Homo sapiens: one gene and its partner. The protein of the gene in region 1 purifies or fractionates together with the protein of each later gene. This does not show direct contact. Each region holds a gene or a part of one and is shown on either strand. Other genes may lie near its edges.

Region 1 (3,822 bases):
CCTCCTGAGTAGCTGGAATTACAGGTGTATGCTACCAGACCCGGCTCATTTTTGTATTTTTAGTAGAGACGGGGTTTCAGCATGTTGGCCAGGGTGGTCTTGAACTCCTGACCTCAAGTGATCCACCCGCCTCAGCCTCCCAAAGTGCTGGGATTAAAGGTGTGAGCCACGGCACCTGGCCTCAATCATTTTTATAATTCTTTTTTACATTCTAGCCAATGTGGAAACCCCTCCAGGCACAAAGCAGGAGACACCCCTCACTACTGAGGAAGGCCCTGCTGGCCCTGACTATGGTGGAAACGTGACTTCACCCCTCCTTCTGGCATACTTGTTAGGATCTCCTGGCATCAAGCGGCACCCTAATAATACCTTTCCCACGATTTCTACATAGGTCCTCTAAAAAACAGTAATTCACCTTTAAACCACCTGGCCACATGAGAATGTGATTAACAATTATTCCTAAACATTGTGGACAGGTAACCAGAGTTGGAAAAGGGTCTGTGTGGGCTGCCCCTCTCCACTGCACGCAGGAAGCTGAAAAAGCTGCACTGATGGAGGCTAGGAGTCCCCAAAAGGCATTGGAGATGGAATAAAAGTAGGAGCCATCAACAGCACTCCAGGTGAGATCCCTGGGGTCAAGAGAACGGCAGAAAGACAGGTCCCATCCTCCTTACCCAAAGACAGGAGGTCAAAGCACCTCTTTTCCCCAAACCCACTGGAAAAGGAACACATGCAAGAAAAAATATTGAGACCCAAGTTCCTGCCTGACATTGGTAACAAGACTAAGAAATCACCTGTTTTTTTTCATTCAGCTAACTTGGTCATAGTGCTTAGAAATAAGTTCCCAATTCAAATCAGCGAGGCTGAGAGACAAACCCCTTTTTTTCTCCTGGTGGATTGGGCCTGCAGAGGATCTTAAAAGACAATGTTATTTTTTTGTGTTGGGGGGACACTGAGTCAAGTGAATAACCATCCTTGCAGGTGTTTCCCACTGGGAAAAATGAAATCTGATGACCCCACTCCCACCCACAGGGACACAACACAAAGTCCTGGATGTGACTGTACTCCAGGGCCTGCTTACCAAGTCACCTGGGGCAGGACACCAACACCCCTGTTGGAACCCCAGGGCTGGGCCGGTGTTCAGTGAGGGTGCTTGTCAGGCCGTCTGGCCCTGAGCAGACCACGTGCAGCCTCACTGCTGCTGGTGCTCTTTCTCCTCCTCCTTTTTAGCCATTTTACTGATCATTAGTGGCAGTACCAGGAGGTGGGCAGGGGAACATAAAGGAGCTGAAATTCAAACCAGCCCATTTTACACCACTTAGGTGCCTCCCATAAAACCGGGCAAGATTTCATCATCCAAGAACTCCCTGTCCTCTGTCCTGTGGAGGTCTAAGCAGCCTGAGGGGTCAGGAGCTACACCATCTCCAGACCCCAGGATCAGGAGCCTCTATCTCTAATTATCATGAGCTCTTGACTGCGCATGGTATTTTCTGTCACTTCAGGGTTAACAGGCATTTCCAGCCATGAGCTGGCCCATCAAGTCAACGCCAGGAAACCTGCAGAGTGGGAGTGCTGGGGCTGCCCTCAGAACCGAAGCACACTCTCCTTGTCCCTCCAAAGTCCCCAGCACAATGGCAAGTTCACAAAGGAAGTGAGCCTTGCCAGACTGTGCTAGCAAATTCCCATAAATACTTGGGTCGGGGTAGTACTGCTTATGTAAAATGCTTCCCCATTGAGAGATGCTGCTTTATTTACATTCTTCACAACCCATTCATAAAAAGGAGGCCCTTTAATGTCGGGGCTGTTCGTATAATGCTCCATAAACTCGGCAGCTTCGCCTGGCAGCCTTAGTTCAACACAGGCTACTTCTCAACTCCAGAGACTTTTTTTCCTTAAGGTTTTTATTCTCCTTAATGACTCACCTTGCGACAGGGTGCTGAGGCCAGATGTTGCCGGAGCAAGGCCAAGAGGAATAAGAACAGATAAAATGAAAACACACAAGTCCTCCTGGATGCTGGAACAGAGAGGTGAGGAGGAATGAAAATAATTTTGAGAATTCCCCATAGAACTCCAATTTGAAGTATGTATGCTAGGAGGCTGAATTCCTTCCAGGTTTACTAAAACTTCCTTTCTGGATGTCAAATGTGCCCCAACTTATACCTCTAACCAGAGAAGGTGTGAAAGGGTTGTTTTTTTTTTTTTTTTTTTTACCCAAAAGGAGCTCTCTCTAGTTTTTAATTTGCACCGGGGATGAATAAATAAACAGAAATTTTCTCTGTTTCTTGATATAAGTGTTCCAGGGGCTGCTGGCTCCAGAAGGGGCACAATTTGCTCAGAGTGAAGAAACTCAGGCAATCCCCAGAAAGAGAGGAAGGACTGTGTTCTAGGACACACAGCAAACACAGCTAAAGGAGCTGAGAAGAGAGCCCAGGAGATGCATTCTGAGGTAGCTTTTCTCCTGCTACAGTAGAAGGAGGAGAGAAGTAGTAGGGATTTTTTTTTTAATTGACGGGGGAGCGGTCTGCATTGCCATGGCAACTGTGAGGGGTGGCCTTCCCGCGTAGAAGGGAAATGCTGGTCCATTAATCATCAAACTGGGGCACAAAAGGGAGGTTTGGGGGAAAGGGGATGGATGCAGAATATATTTTTTCACTATCTGGCCTCTAACCAGTCACCAGTCCTCTTTCCCGTTTCCCCCATGGTCCAGGGTTGATGGTGAACCAAAACAGAAGCCTGAGAGAGCAGGGATTGTAGCTTTCCTTTATGAGGGGTCCAATGTGGGGCTGATTGTGCCTCTTATGTTGGTGATGCCCCCATAAACACCTCTTCCAAACCAGCCCCAAAAGTCCCATCTATGGGCCAGACCCAGGAGTATTTTTCTTTTCTGTGCTCAGAATTGTGTTTTCTCCCTCATTTGCACCCGGTTTGAGAAGAGATAAAACATGGATTCATTTAGCATGAACAACAAGGAAAACTGCATAAGAGCAGCAAAGCTGGGTAGAAAGAATGGTGGTCCGGTGAGGTAGGAGGAAAACAGGATTACAGCCCTTTTCCAATGTCTATATGGTATCACATAAGCAATCCATAGGACTCTTCACCAGCAGAAATATTAGAAACAGCAGTTAAATTTCCCATTTACAGCACCCCAAACATGCCCTATCCATATGCCTTTGACAGAAAGGGCTGGAAATCTCCAAGGACTCCAATATGAGCATTTCTGGAGAAGCTGAAAGGAAGGTCTCCCCCTTGTTCCTGCCTAACTCAGCAACCAACCACATTTATTCACTCAACAAAAATGATGTGCACAGCACTGTACAAGAAATACCAGAATATTCACACACACACACACACACACAGAGGTTTAACACTCATATTGTTCCTGTCCTTAAGAAATTTCCAACCTACAAAACCACTCAAGAGGATACCACGTTAGAAAATCCAGAGTCATGAGCTCAGGCGGGGATGACTATGTTGGCCTGGAGTGGTCTGAGCAACAACCAGACTAAGGACAAGTGGGATTCAAGTGGGAGTAAAGGAAGGGGAGCGGCAGCAGTGAAGATGCAGGAAGAAAAAATGTGCATGGTATGGCTAGGGAAGAGCTGGAGGGGACACTGTCTAGGGTCAGACTGCAGGGAACGGGGAGCCATTGCAAGTCTGTGAGAAAGGGAGTGACACCGGGAAGGGGTGTTTTAGGAAGAATGACCTGGTAGCTGCATACAGACTGGATCAGAAGGGCCAAAGGAAGCAGGAGGGAAAGGGAGGCTATAACAACAACACAGGCCTGACACGGGGACAGCAGGACAACAGAAAGGAAGAAAGAGA
Region 2 (3,822 bases), on another chromosome or scaffold:
CTTTATATTCTTATAGTTATAATTTGAGGATTTTATTTAACATAATCATTTATCATTTCATGTTGATAATATCAGTCATGTAATTTATACTCCAAATAGCTTTATAATTACTTACAGATTTGTTTTGGGGCTTAATTCTTATAACTGAAATTAGGTATGATTTTTAATAGTAACCATATAATTATATAGAATAGAAAAATGTGTTGTTTCCATGAGCAACACATTAGGACAACAGATTAGGACAGGCAGAATTAAAGTCTTGGAGATTAAATGTAGGAAATTAATTCCCAGGCTTATGATTATCACATTATTTTTAGTTAGTAGAAATGACAAGGGTATTGGTTTATGTAATTCCTTAAAGATAGCTTCTAAGTTTTGTGTCGTAGCTTGTCCAGGACCTTGTTGAAAGTACCTGGGCTTATGTCTGAGGCTCTGAATAGTCTTCTGCCACAGCTCTCTTTTTATACATTTGGATGTGATTGGATTGTATCCAGTTGATTTTTTTGACACATATTTAATATTTTTTGTTATTAATAAAATATTTACAAATCCTGTGGGTTCATTTCTTAAATTTTGTCGTGCATTAACTAGTTTATTCTTATTTTTATTATTTTTTTTTTAAGTGGGAACTGGGCAGTGAAGAGCCCCACTCCCAATTAGTTCATTCTTAATTATTTTGTTGAATGTTGGCAGTTTACCGCAGATAACACTAATAGAGAAATGTTTAGTTTTAGCATTTAGGATAACTTAGAAGACAATGTAATTAGTTTCAAAAATGTATACCCCTAATGTTGTGTTCATATCATCTGATAACCTCAAATATAGTTAACATTCAAGAAAAGGAGTGCATTATGTGACTGGCCGTGTATGTTTTTGATTAAAAAAGAAAAAAGTTCGTTGTTTCATGGTTGAAAGGGACAACATTTTTGGATGAGGTTTTTTTTTTGTTGTTGTTGTTGTTGTTTTTTAACACTTCTGCTTGAATTAAAACACTCTTAACCAAACCATGCTGAATTACCTAAGGAAGGGACCCCTGGAATGATAGCTTATGTAACAAGCAGCAGCAACAACCCTGACCAATATGATTTTTTTAAAGGAGTTAAGAAATTATAGGTGACTTGAAACTTAGAGCCAAGTAACATAAGTATTAAAAGTATAACCTTGATTTCTCATAAATATTTGGGACAGTGGCATTTAAATGTTACAAGGTAGAAGTCAGCTGACCTCTACATAATACACTAAATTACTCTAGTGCACAAAAAGAGGACAGTAATTCTTTAAAAGGGAGACGAGTACTCTAGTGAGAATATCGAGTTTGTTTTTATGTCTGGAATTAAAGTTCAGATCTTAATCATAAGTTCTATTTTGAGGGCTTTTGTTGAAGATTTTTCATAATCTTAACTTTGCATGCCCCAAAATGACTTTATCTTTTTGCTTTCAGTAAAGTACAGTTGACTTAGTTCGAATCTATCTAGAAATAAGATCCTAGAGGAGACAAAAAACAGCTTGAGAGGATGATTTTTTTTAAAGTCCTGATTGCTGTCAGTCTCAGAGCAATATGGATCAGAGCTGTACAGTGCAAACGGGAAGAAAGCAAAATATATGTTGGGTAAGGGAGGGTATCATCAACATTTGTCCTTTAGGTGCAATCAGTGCTACAGAATATTTACTTCAAGAGCAGAAATTTATGGGATAAAGAAGTATATTGCATCCAGAACACATACAGACACTGGATTTCCTTTTAAATGGTCAGTATTGCCGGTGCAGTGGCTCATGCCTGTTATCTCAGTACTTTGGGAGGTTGAAGCATGCAGATTGCTTGAGCCTGGGAGTTCAAGAACAGCCTAGGCAACATGGCAAAACCCCATCTCTACAAAAAATAGAAAAATTACCTGAGTTTGGTGGCATGCAATTGTGGTCCCAGTTATTGAGGGTGCTGAGGCAGGAGGATTGCTTGAGCCTGGGAGGGCAAGGCTGCAGTTAGCGGTTTGGTGCCACTGTACTCCAGCCTGGGCAACAGAGCATGACACTATCTCAAAAAAAAAAGAAAAAGAAAGGAAAAAAGTTATCAGTATTTTATTTATATACATCAGCCCTAAATCCTCAGTATTTTATATATATACATCAACCCTACCACCAGTTCTCCCGGCTAAGTAACAAAAAGGAATTCTGTCAGCATCATTTAATTCCGTAGGCATTTAACATTATGTGAGGGGAGCCATTCAGTTGCACAAATAGGTACAGCACAGTAAGCCGCAAGAGTAACTTAGTAAACAAAGCATTAGCATTATTATGATACTTTTAACTCACTGTGGCATCTTCCCAGACTTTCTAGAGAGTAAATTAACTGAGTCTGGGTTGCTGTTGGGACTAGTAAGAGAATCTTTCAAAAGGGAATTTAAAGATACGCTCCCTAGGTACCCGTACTCTGTGAGTAAAAGTATTAGCAAACTGTTTATAACATTTATTTTAACATGAATGCCACTTCCAGGCCTTTTTTTTGTGTGTGTGTGTGTGAGACTGAGTCTCATTCTGTCACCCAGGTGGGAGTGCAGTGGTGTGATCTCAGCTTAATGCAGCCTCTGCCCCCACCCCCACCCCCTGCTGGGGTTCAAGTGATTCTCCTGCCTCAGCCTCCCGAGTAGCTGGGATTACAGGCACCTGCCACCATGCCCGGCTAATTTTTGTATTTTTAGTAGAGATGGGGTTTCACCATCTTGGCCAGGCTGGTCTTGAACTCCTGACCTCGTGATCCACCCCCCTTGGCCTCCCAAAGTGCTGGGATTACAGGCGTGAGCCACCGTGCCCGGCCAACTTCCAAGCATTTTTAATACAGGAATATATTTTTCTAGTAAATTAGGATGATGGTAGCATTTTAAAAAGCACAGTGCTGTATATCTGAAGACCTGTTGCCAATATATTATTTCTCTTAATAGATGTTTAGAAAGAATAGCTTTCAACATAGCTGCTACACTGTTGTATGTTATATATAGGATTATATTTCAGTTAAGGACTAGCCAAATTTATTTTCAAACTTCAGATGTTTATCATGAAGTAACTTTGTTAAAAAGGAGATTCTTAAAAGCAAGCATTTGTTTCTTACAGGTCCGAACAAGGTCAGTTGGTGAATGTGTAGCATTCTATTACATGTGGAAAAAATCTGAACGTTATGATTTCTTTGCTCAGCAAACACGATTTGGAAAGAAGAAATATAATCTTCATCCTGGTGTAACGTGAGTTAATTTTTTCCTTAAGAGCTATATATACATTTTTGCTAAGCTTTTCTAGATTTTTCTTGAGTTAATTATTATTTTGATAATCTTGCTTTTATATACTTGATCTTAACCAGAAGGCCGAGAGTGATAAAATCTTGCTTTTATAATACACATTAAACTTTACCATCTATTATATCTTCATAAATAAGGCATTTAGACTTTTCAGTGTCTTATGAAATATTGTAAACTACAGTTCATATTATGTATGAGACAAGCATATCATTAAAGCAAGATTTAGAATGTATATTTTTAATACACTGTTGAGAAGAAATGGATCAGAACAGCTGTGAAAGCATGTTTTTCTTAAATTCAGTTCCATTCAGTATAAGCACATACAGTTTTAATCTTCTTTTTTTTTTTTTGAGATGTAGTCTCAAATCTGTTGCCCAGGCTGGAATGCAGTGGTGCAATCTCAGCTCCCTGCAGCCTCCGTCTCCCGGCTTCAAGCGATTGTCCTGCCTCAGCCTCCCGAGTAGCTGGGATTACAGGTGCCTGCCATGACGCCTGGCTAATTTTTGAATTTTTATTAGAGACGGGGTTTCACTGT

The links.
Region 2: the proteins of BAHD1 (region 1) and MIER1 purify together in Homo sapiens (co-immunoprecipitation; one large-scale study listed by IntAct). This does not show direct contact.

What each region holds. Positions count from the first base shown.
Region 1 is NC_000015.10:40,443,644-40,447,465, reverse strand, and holds part of BAHD1 (bromo adjacent homology domain-containing 1 protein), read right to left. Parts: exon of another isoform or gene 2,065-3,822; coding exon of another isoform or gene 1,923-2,064; intron 1-1,922.
Region 2 is NC_000001.11:66,973,490-66,977,311, forward strand, and holds part of MIER1 (mesoderm induction early response protein 1), read left to right. Parts: exon of another isoform or gene 1-2,029; intron 2,030-3,105; coding exon 3,106-3,233; intron 3,234-3,822. UniProt on the Homo sapiens protein: Transcriptional repressor regulating the expression of a number of genes including SP1 target genes. Probably functions through recruitment of HDAC1 a histone deacetylase involved in chromatin silencing.